Regions from separate parts of the Homo sapiens genome. Here region 1 is linked to region 2. Evidence: fine-mapped QTL for protein levels in blood plasma. A gene starts in region 2. The other region holds a variant in brackets. All regions are shown on one strand. Distances are between the middles of the regions. Region 1 has its middle 87 kb from the start of MSTN. Region 2 holds the start of MSTN (myostatin).

The links. PIP is the chance, under the fine-mapping model, that this variant and not a neighbour inherited with it causes the effect. The UK Biobank Pharma Proteomics Project read protein levels with antibody pairs (Olink). The fine-mapping took linkage between variants from a reference panel, not from the people measured, so its PIPs are less certain.
Region 1: its variant is fine-mapped to the plasma level of the MSTN protein (UK Biobank, PIP 0.95).

What each region holds. Positions count from the first base shown.
Region 1 is chr2:189,972,720-189,978,101 of GRCh38, forward strand. It overlaps a transcript of AKAP19 not described here. Among named protein-coding and RNA genes, the nearest start is that of MSTN, 87 kb to the right of the region's middle. The variant G/A (reference allele first, on the strand shown) is at 2,694.
Region 2 is chr2:190,059,672-190,065,053 of GRCh38, forward strand. MSTN (myostatin) reads right to left here and starts at 3,058. Exons shown (of 3, transcript NM_005259.3): 1 at 2,553-3,058; 2 at 391-764. The coding sequence starts at 2,925. It also overlaps a transcript of AKAP19 not described here.

The DNA.
Region 1 (5,382 bases), 87 kb before region 2:
AGGTATTTTATTCTCTTTGAAGCAATTGTGAATGGGAGTTCACTCGTGATTTGGCTCTCTGTTTGTCTGTTATTGGTGTATAAGAATGCTTGTGATTTTTGCACATTGATTTTGTATCCTGAGACCTTGCTAAAGTTGCTTATCAGCTTAAGGAGATTTGGGGCTGAGATGATGGGCTTTTCTAAATATACAATCATGTCATCTGCAAACAGGGACAATTTGACTTCCTCTTTTCCTAATTGAATATCCTTTATTTCTTTCTCTTGCCTGATTGCCCTGGCCAGAACTTCCAACACTATGTTGAATAGGAGTGGTGAGAGAGGGCATCCCTGTCTTGTGCTAGTTTTCAAAGGGAATGCTTCCAGTTTTTGCCCATTCAGTATGATATTGGCTGTGGGTTTGTCATAAATAGCTCTTATTATTTTGAGATACATCCCATCAATACCTAATTTATTGAGAGTTTTTAGCATAAAGGGCTGTTGAATTTTGTCAAAGGCCTTTTCTGCATCTATTGAGATAATCATGTGTTTTTTTGTCTTTAGTTCTGTTTATATGCTGGATTATGTTTATTGATTTGTGTATGTTGAACCAGCCTTCCATCCCAGGGATGAAGGCCACTTGATCATGGTGGATAAACTTTTTGATGTGCTGCTGGATTCGGTTTGCCAGTATTTTATTGAGGATTTTTGCATCTATGTTCATCAGGGATATTGGTCTAAAATTCTCTTTTTTGGTTGTGTCTCTGCCAGGCTTTGGTATCAGGATGATGCTGGCCTCATAAAATGAGTTAGGGAGGATTCCCTCTTTTTCTATTGATTGGAATAGTTTCAGAAGGAGTGGTACCAGTTCCTCCTTGTACCTCTGGTAGAATTTGGCTGTGAATCCATCTGGTCCTGGACTTTTTTTGGTTGGTAGGCTATTAAGTATTGCCTCAATTTCAGAGCCTGTTATTGGTTATTCAGGGATTCAACTTCTTCCTGGTTTAGTCTTGGGAGGTTGTATGTGTCCAGGAATTTATCCCTTTCTTCTAGATTTTCTAGTTTATTTGCATAGAGGTGTCTATATTATTCTCTGATGGTAGTTTGTATTTCTTTGGGATTGGTGGTGATATCCCCTTTATCATTTTTTATTGCATCTATTTGACTCCTCTCTCTTTTCTTATTAGTCTTGCTAGCAGTCTATCAATTTTGTTGATCTTTTCAAAAAACCAACTCCTGGATTCATTGATTTTTTGAAGGTTTTTTTGTGTCTCTATTTCCTTCAGTTCTGCTCTGATCTTAGTTATTTCTTGCCTTCTGCTAGCTTTTGAATTTGTTTCTTCTTGCTTCTCTAGTTCTTTTAATTGTGATGTTAGGGTGTCAATTTTAGATCTTTCCTGCTTTCTCTTGTGGGCATTTAGTGCTATAAATTTCCCTCTACACACTGCTTTAAATGTGTCCCAGAGATTCTGGTATGTTGTGTCTTTGTTCTCGTTGGTTTCAAAGAACATCTTTATCTCTGCCCTCATTTCGTTATGACCCAGTAGTCATCCAGGAGCAGGTTGTTCAGTTTCCATGTAGTTGAACGGTTTTGAGTGAGTTTCTTAATCCTGAGTTCTAGTTTGATTGCACTGTGATCTGAGAGACAGTTTGTTATAATTTCTGTTCTTTTACATTTGCTGAGGAGTGCTTTACTTCCAACTATGTGGTCAATTTTGGAATAAGTGTGATGTGGTGCTAAGAAGAATGTATATTCTGTTGATTTGGGGTGGAGAGTTCTGTAGCAGTCTATGAGGTCTGCTTGGTGCAGAGCTATGTTCAATTCCTGGATATCCTTTTTAACTTTCTGTTTCGTTGATCTGTCTAATGTTAGCAGTGGGGTGTTAAAGTCTCCCATTATTATTGTGTGGGAGTCTAAGTCTCTTTGGTCTCTAGGTCTCTAAGGACTTGCTTTATGAATCTGGGTGCTCCTGTATTGGGTGCATGCATATTTAGGATAGTTCTTCTTGTTGCATTGATCTCTTTACCATTATGTAATGGTGTTCTTTGTCTCTTTTGATCTTTGTTGGTTTAAAGTCTGTTTTATCAGAGACTAAGATTGCAACCCCTGCCTTTTTTTGTTTTCCATTTGCTTGGTAGATCTTCCTCCATCCCTTTATTTTGAGCCTATGTGTATCTCTGCACGTGAGATGAGTCTCCTGAATACAGCACACTGATGGGTCTTGACTCTTTATCCAATTTGCCAGTCTGTGTCTTTTAATTGGAGCATTTAGCCCATTTACATTTAAAGTTAATATTGTTGTGTGTGAATTTGATCCTGTCATTATGATATTAGCTGGTTATTTTGCTCGTTAGTAGATGCAGTTTCTTCCTAGCACTGATGGTCTTTACAATTTGGCATGTTTTTGCAGTGGCTGGTACCAGTTGTTCCTTTCCGTGTTTAGTTCTTCCTTCAGGAACTTTTGTAGGGCAGGCCTGGTGGTGAAAAAATCTCTCAGCATTTGCTTGTGTGTAAAGGATTTTATTTCTCCTTCACTTATGAAGCTTAGTTTGGCTGGATATGAAATTCTGGGTTGAAAATTCTTTTCTTTAAGAATGTTGAATATTGGCCCCCACTCTCTTCTGGCTTGTAGAGTTTCTGCTGAGAGATCCCCTGTTAGTCTGATGGGCTTCCCTTTGTGGGTAACCCGACCTTTCTCTCTGGCTGCCCTTAAC[G/A]TTTTTTCCTTCATTTCAACTTTGGTGAATCTGACAATTATGTGTCTTGGAGTTGCTCTTCTCGAGGAGTATCTTTGTGGCGTTCTCTGTATTTCCTGAATTTGAATGTTGGCCTGCCTTACTAGGTTGGGGAAGTTCTCCTGGATGATATCCTGCAGAGTGTTTTCCAACTTGGTTCCATCCTCCCCATCACTTTCAGGTACACCAATCAGGTGTAGATTTGGTCTTTTCACATAGTCCCATATATCTTGGAAGCTTTGTTCATTTCTTTTTACTCTTTTTTTTCTCTAGACTTCTCTTCTCGCTTCATTTCACTCATTTGATCTTCAGTCACTGATACCCTTTCTTCCAGTTGATCGAATCGGCTACTGAAGCTTGTGCATTCGTCAAGTAGTTCTCGTGCCATGGTTTTCAGCTCCATCAGGTCATTTAAGGACTTCTGTACACTGGTTATTCTAGTTAGCCATTCGTCTAATCTTTTTTCAAGGTTTTTAGCTTCTTTGTGTTGGGTTCAGACTTCCTCCTTTAGCTCAGAGAAGTTTGATCGTCTGAAGCCCTCTTCTCTCAACTAGTCAGTCATTCTCCGTCCAGCTTTGTTCCATTGCTGGTGAGAAGCGGCGTTCCTTGGAGGGGGAGAGGTGCTCTGATTTTTAGAATTTCAGCTTCCTGCTCTGTTTTTTCCCCATCTTTGTGGTTTTATCTACCTTTGGTTTTTGATGATGGTGACGTACAGATGGGGTTTTGGTGTGGATGTCCTTTCTGTTTGTTAGTTTTCCTTCTAACAGTCAGGATCCTCCACTGCAGGCCTGTTGGAGTATGCTGGAGGTCCACTCCAGACCCTGTTTGCCTGAGTATCGGCAGCAGAGGCTGCAGAACAGCGAATATTGCTGAACAGCAAATGTTGCTGCCTGATCATTCCTCTGAAAGCTTCGTCTCAGGGGGGTACCAGCCATGTGAGGTGTTAGTCTGCCCCTACTGGGGGGTGCCTCCCAATTAGGCTCTTCAGGGGTCAGGGACCCACTTGAGGAGGCAGTCTGACCATTCTCAGATCTCCAGCTGCGTGCTGGGAGAACCACTACTCTCTTCAAAGCTGTCAGACAGGGACATTTAAGTCTGCAGAGGTTTCTGCTGCCTTTTGTTTGGCCATCTCCTGCCCCCTGAGGTGGAGTCTACAGAGGCAGGCAGGCCTCCTTGAGCTGCGGTGGGTTCCACCCAGTTCGAGCTTCCTGGCTGCTTTGTTTACCTACTCAAGCCTCAGCAATGGCGGGCGCCCCTCCCCCAGCCTCGCTGCTGCCTTGCAGTTCAATTTCAGTCTGCTGTGCTAGCAATTAGTGAGGCTCTGTGGGCTTCGGACACTCTGAGCCAGGTGCGGAATATAATCTCCTGGTGTGCCGTTTACTAAGATTGTTGGAAAAGCGCAGTATTAGGGTGGGAGTGACCCAATTTTCCCGGTGCCGTCTGTCACAGCTTCCCTTGGCTAGGAAAGGGAATTCCCTGACCCTTTGTGCTTCCTGGGTGAGGCGATGCCTTGCCCTGCTTTGGCTCACACTCGGTGGGCTGCACCCACTGTCCTGCACCCACTGTCCAACAAGCCCCAGTGAGATGAAGCTGCTACCCCAGTTGGAAATGCAGAAATCACCCGTCCTCTGCATCGCTCACGCTGGGAGCTGTAGACTGAAGCTGTTCCTATTTGGCCATCTTGGAACTGCCCCCAACCATTTGGTTTTCTTCCTTGATAAATTGCTTTTTATCCCACATTAGTATTTCATCTTCAAAAGTAGACTGAAAGGCTAGTACAAATTTGTTCATTTAATTAGCAAATAGTTCCTGAGTGCCTTCTATATGTCAGTCACTGTGCTGAATATATAATGTAAGTAACATAGCCACTCTCCTTGCCCTAATAGAGCTTACAAAGTGAGTTACTTTTTTTCTTTTTCATCTTATGGTGTTGAAATATAATTGAATATTTTCCTTTAGACAAACTCAGTTTGATAACCATCACTTTCATTCAAATATCTACTTTTGGCTCCAGGCATCCAGTAGGGTTTCCTAGAATAAAGTCACCTCAGACTGATATTACAATTTCAAATATTGAATGCTGTTCTTGAAAATGATGTTTTTCTAAAAAATGGTGTCTGATATGCCTATTAGGCACCCAAAGAGATAAGCAGTTGACCACTCAGGTCTGGATTTAGAAGATAAATTTAATTTAATTTTGGTAGTCACATGTTTCTAAATGATATTTAAAACTATAAAACAAGATGTAACTGCTGGAGTGGTGTAGGTAGAGAATAAAAGAGGTCTTGGACTGAATCTTGGGGTACTTGAACATTTTGAAGTTGTGGAGATATTAAAAAAGAGAGTTGACAAGCTAAGGGTTATGGAAACACATACACATATTTACAAAGTCCTTGACTTACAATGATTTGAATTACAAATTTTCAACTTTTGCCATAACAGTACACATTCAGTAGAAACCATACTGCTAGTCTTCATACAACCATTCTGTTTTTCACTTTCAGTACAATATTCAATAAATTACATAAGCTGTTCAACACTTTATTATAAAATAGGTTTTGTGTTAGAAGATTTTGCCTAATCATAGCCTGATTTAAGTGTTCTGATCATGTTTAAGGTGGGCTAGGCTAAGCTATCCTATTTGATAGGTTAAGCATATTAAATGCATTTA
Region 2 (5,382 bases):
TCTGGGAGAAAAAAATAATGTTTGGATTTGTTGGTTTATGTGGTAAAATCCACTATATAGAGTTAATATTTTAATACATACAGTCATGTATCATATTAATGAAAAGCACTTTATATTTCATTCCCAATTCAAAAGGACTTCTTAAGAAGTTAAGAAGTATGGTATAATTGTTTTCTAAAATCTTGATGCAAAGTAAGAGTATCAAGGGAGTGTTTCATAGGATATGAAATTGGACACCTACTTTTATTGGGTACAGGGCTACCGTTGGGGTAAGATACCTTTGTCTAGCTTATGAGCTTAGGGAATTTGTAGCTATTTTCCACTATTGTTTGTTCATATTATGAATAAAAACATAAGGTTATTATAATGTTATTTTCAGTTATCACTTACCAGCCCATCTTCTCCTGGTCCTGGGAAGGTTACAGCAAGATCATGACCATTCTCATCTAAAGCTTTTATTTCAATGCCTAAGTTGGATTCAGGTTGTTTGAGCCAATTTTGCAACACTGTCTTCACATCAATGCTCTGCCAAATACCAGTGCCTGGGTTCATGTCAAGTTTCAGAGATCGGATTCCAGTATACCTTGTACCGTCTTTCATAGGTTTGATGAGTCTCAGGATTTGCACAAACACTGTTGTAGGAGTCTCGACGGGTCTCAAATATATCCATAGTTGGGCCTTTACTACTTTATTGTATTGTATTTTAGAGCTAAATTTAAAGAAGCAACATTTGGGTTTTCCATCCACTTGCATTAGAAAATCAGCTATAAATGAATAAGAAAAGAAAAGTTGCTGAAATTATTTCCCATTAACAAAACCCCTCCATATTAATAGTTGAGCATTTTTTTAAATTAAGATAATGTATGCCTATGCAGTCTTTTAAAATGAAATACCGTGTGGAACTTTATAACTCAAAAAAATGTCAAAGAAAATAATTACCCTAGCTTTTCAGAATTTTTCAGACGTATGTATTTTCAGCTGTTCATCAGGAATCTATTCCCCTTCCAGAGAACTATGGACAAAGGAAGGTTCTATGAAGTAATGAACGCTGAATGAAATTTTAAAATGATGATGATTAGAGAGAACAAGAGACACTGTGGAGGAACAACCACTTAGAATTCTTTGGGAATCTGAGTAGTTACACTTACTGAGCAGCTGTACCAATCAGTCTGGAAGAAGGAACCCTTCCCCCAGGCCTGAATTACCTGGGGACAAGACACACTGAGCAACTTACTGAGCCTCAGGAATTAGTAGAAAACACAGTACATCTGTTACATTTTGGCTTTGGAATAACCTTTTAAAGGAGCAAAACTAAGCAGATAATTAACACAAAAATTTTGATGTTATATTCAGGCTATCTGAAAAGTTCGAAAGTATTGTCTTTAGGGCCAGGCTGTCATGTAAGCACAAGCACTAACAATTTCTTTTATTTTGGTTTTCCAAAATTGTCTATAAAAGGTAAATCTGCTCCAGACCTATTTGATAGCAGAGTCTTAAATGGAAATTCTTTGCTGCATTGTAACCTGATTACTTAATAAGGGAAATAATATTTTAAAACTGTTTGGAGTCTTGTTTAAAGTATATAAAGCATTGTATTAAAGCAAGATAACAGGTAACACAAAATTTTTCTTGCCATGCCTTCTCTGTCAAGGTGCCTGTTTCTCTTTCCTGGAGAAAGTATTCTTTTGAGCTGACTGCAAAAGGAATTGTATGAAATATGTTATCTGTCAGAAGCAGTGTAGATACTACAGGTAAAAGCCCTCCCTCTCAGGAAGAATAAAATATTTTAGAAGGTTATTAAGCACTGTGCCTGCTTGGAAGTACACAAACTGGGTACTCTCAATAATAGTACTATGGTCAAGGTACAAGGAGGACTTTGTGAGCCATAACCTACCCAATTAAAATGTTTATTTCTTAGGCATTTTCTAATATTTAGTTCATGATGATTATTATGCTATGTTTACTTCATTATTGTTCTTACTAACACATTAAGATATTTAATTTTTGCATATTCTTCAGTGTAATAGCTCTCAAAATTAAATTTTTAACTGTGAAGAACAAAAAAATTACTGAGAGAGTTTCAAATAACAGAAATCACTTGAGGTTTTCAGCAGTGCTCAAGTAAGCTTAAACATCCAGCAAGTTTCTTTTTTTTTTTCTGTTATTAGTGAAAAAAACTTATTTTACACAACTAAATACAATTCTAAAATCTAATGTAAGTTTTAAACACTGCTTGTAGTATCTCCCAGTCCTTGCCTTGGTGGTATTATTGTGAAAGCATAAGCATGCTATCTATATTTGCCTTATTAAATTAATGCTATGCAAGTACTTTATTTTTTAGTTTTTTGTCTCTATAAGAAAACAAATAATGCAGCAGATTTTTGTCTCATTAATATATTCTCATGCAATCTTGAAAAAGAGAAACTCTTTTCCTTTCTACTTACATACAGGCCAACAGCTTGTTTAAAAGAGCCTGAAAATAGATCTGTTTCTCATAAACACTAGAACAACAGTCAGCAGAACTGTTGATATACACTAATAGGACTACTTACACTCTGTAGGCATGGTAATGATTGTTTCCGTTGTAGCGTGATAATCGTCATCTTCCAAAGAGCCATCGCTGCTGTCATCCCTCTGGACATCATACTGATCAATCAGTTCCCGGAGTGGAGGAGCTTTGGGTAAAAGTTGTCTTATAACATCTTTGCTGATGTTAGGAGCTGTTTCCAGACGAAGTTTACTGAGGATTTGTATCTTAATGGCTTCTATTCTTGAAGATTTAGTGTTTTGTCTCCAAGTACATGCATTACACAGCCCCTCTTTTTCCACATTTTCTTTTTGCTCACTGTTCTCATTTAGATCCACTGGACCAGCAACAATCAGCATAAACAGGTAAATATAAACACAGAGTTGCAGTTTTTGCATGATTTTAAAATCAATATAATCTTTTTTCTTGTTCTTGTTTCTTCCTTTTACTTTTCTTTTGCTTTTGAGTAATGCCAAGCAAAATTTTAATGCATGTACAGTCTGAGAGACAACTTGCCACACCAGTGAATCTTTTATACTGTATTCCAAGTGGCTTTTTATATTCCAACTTAGATGAGACAAGTGTCGTCAGGATCTATGATTGGCTCTTGCTCCACAATGAATCTCGCTGTCAGAGGTTAAAACCCTGTCTGTCCCAAGTCACCAAGCAGTATTTTGTTACAGTCAAGGGTGAGCTGATTCATTTGACTACTTCATAAAAGAAATAAATCTACAAATAATAAAAGATATTTGTGACATTTGAAAAACAAAAGTCTATGTTGGCAATAATATAAACTGTACTTAAATCTTACTAATCCTCACACAACTCTTATTGTAATTTAAATAAGTCAATTTTAATTTATACTACATATTTAAAATATGAAATATTACTTCCTCAAAAACTAAAATGATTTTATATTGTTTAGGCAAGTATTTGAAGTAGAAAATATTTTTATTTGTTGTATTAAATTATTTTTAGTGCCAAGTAATTAGGAAAATAAAAATTAGGAAGACCTGAATTAAAAGTTAAGATTATGATACTAGTTGAGAATTTTCATCTATAATTTGAGAAACTTGTTTTCTGACTAAATTCTTAGTAAATATTGGAAGTCATTGTTATTATAACATATTGTGCATGGAATTATTTTTACATAGTTTCATGTCTTTTATTAATATGAAAATTATACTGAACTTTTGACTGAGTGCTATTATTTCCTATTCTAAAGATGCAGATTAACATAACTCAGAAGATGTGTTTTTCATTGTTTATTACCAAGAGGGTAATGCCAGCTAGTAGAAAAATCTCTGAACATAGACTAAGATAATGAATTTTATAACTGGCATGGCAGAGATTATTACAGTTTGCCTCAGATTTCCAGCAGTAAATATCCAGAGAGTAAAAAGTGCAGTATCTATTCTCTATAAATTATATCAGAATATTATGAGCACATAAAAGAGAAAGAGCATCATGATAAAGGGGTGACCTTTTGTTGTTTCCCAATACTGCGATATGTTTGCACCCCTTTGCCAATTTCTCATTTTGACCAGAGGGCAGACACCTGGCAGGGATTTGGGGTAAAGTCTGGGAGCAGAGAATAGAGCTTTTTGTTCTCTAAATTTAAGTGGCCTCTGTAGGGATCAAACGTTCAACCTTAGCTTTGGGAGCCACAAGATCTAGTCAAATGAACTATTAAAGAGCTAAGCAAACATAGCCAGCAAGAAACAGAAGATATTTCTAGGCCAAAGGAGATTTCTTTTTCCTACTCCTTTTTGGGAAGCTAAGGATTCCTAAGAGATTTAGTCCATTACTTTTTTTTTCCAAGAGAATACAGTGGCTCATATCAAATATTTATTTTTAAAGTCACTACCATTTTTGCACACTGTACACTAATTTACTGCCTCGGTGCACTAAAATGCAACTCAGTAGCCTGAAAAGTTAATGCATTTTCATCAAATTCTTAAGAGGTATCTACATCTCTTGAGAAAAAAATGGCCTTACATAATGCATTGGATTTGCTCATCATTAAAGATTAAGGAAAACCAGACACAAACCAGATGCCCTGAGGATTTCAGATACTCTTTGTTATGGGACAATATTAGATCTGGCTTCTAAGGTTTTATTTGTTTGGTAAATTCATTTTTCAATGTGTAAATCTTTCAAATGTTATGATCATTGTAACACATGCATCTATACAGTTCCAAGTAAGTCAAACTTTTTTTTTAATATGCTTAGAATTGTATAGCAGTTGAATTGAGAACTCAGGCTCTGGAGTCAGATAGACCTGAGTTCAAATCTCAACTTTGCCACTTCTAACTATGTGATAATGGATGAGATACTTAACTTCCCTAAACTTTAGCTTCCTCATAGGGTTTTGGGGGGATATAATTTAATAATGCATGTAAATTGCTGAATATGGCACCTGTCATATAGTAAGTAATTGATAACTGGCATTTGAGTGCTTGCTCTTTGTTTTATGCAGAAGGGTTTGAGATTATGCTTAAAATTATGCTCCACATGAACTAGAACTGCTTCAGGTCATAGCTGCCAATTATCAGTCACAAAGCCTACTTTCTAGGCCTGTGAGGCAAGTAAAATTTTCTAAGGCAGCCAGGTTACAAGACATGTTCCAGCTCTTTATTCTTATCACCTGGAAAAAAGTGAACAAAGGTTGTCATTTCCGCTAACAGACAATTCTTATTATTCATGATTTCTGTATTCACAAATTTGCCTACTTGCTAAAATTTATCTATGAAACTCAATATTCCTAGCATTTTTCAGTCATTCGCTGGCATTCACAGAGCGGCAAAAAATTTGAGTCCTATCTGACGCACAGGTTCCCAGATGAGGTCAAACAA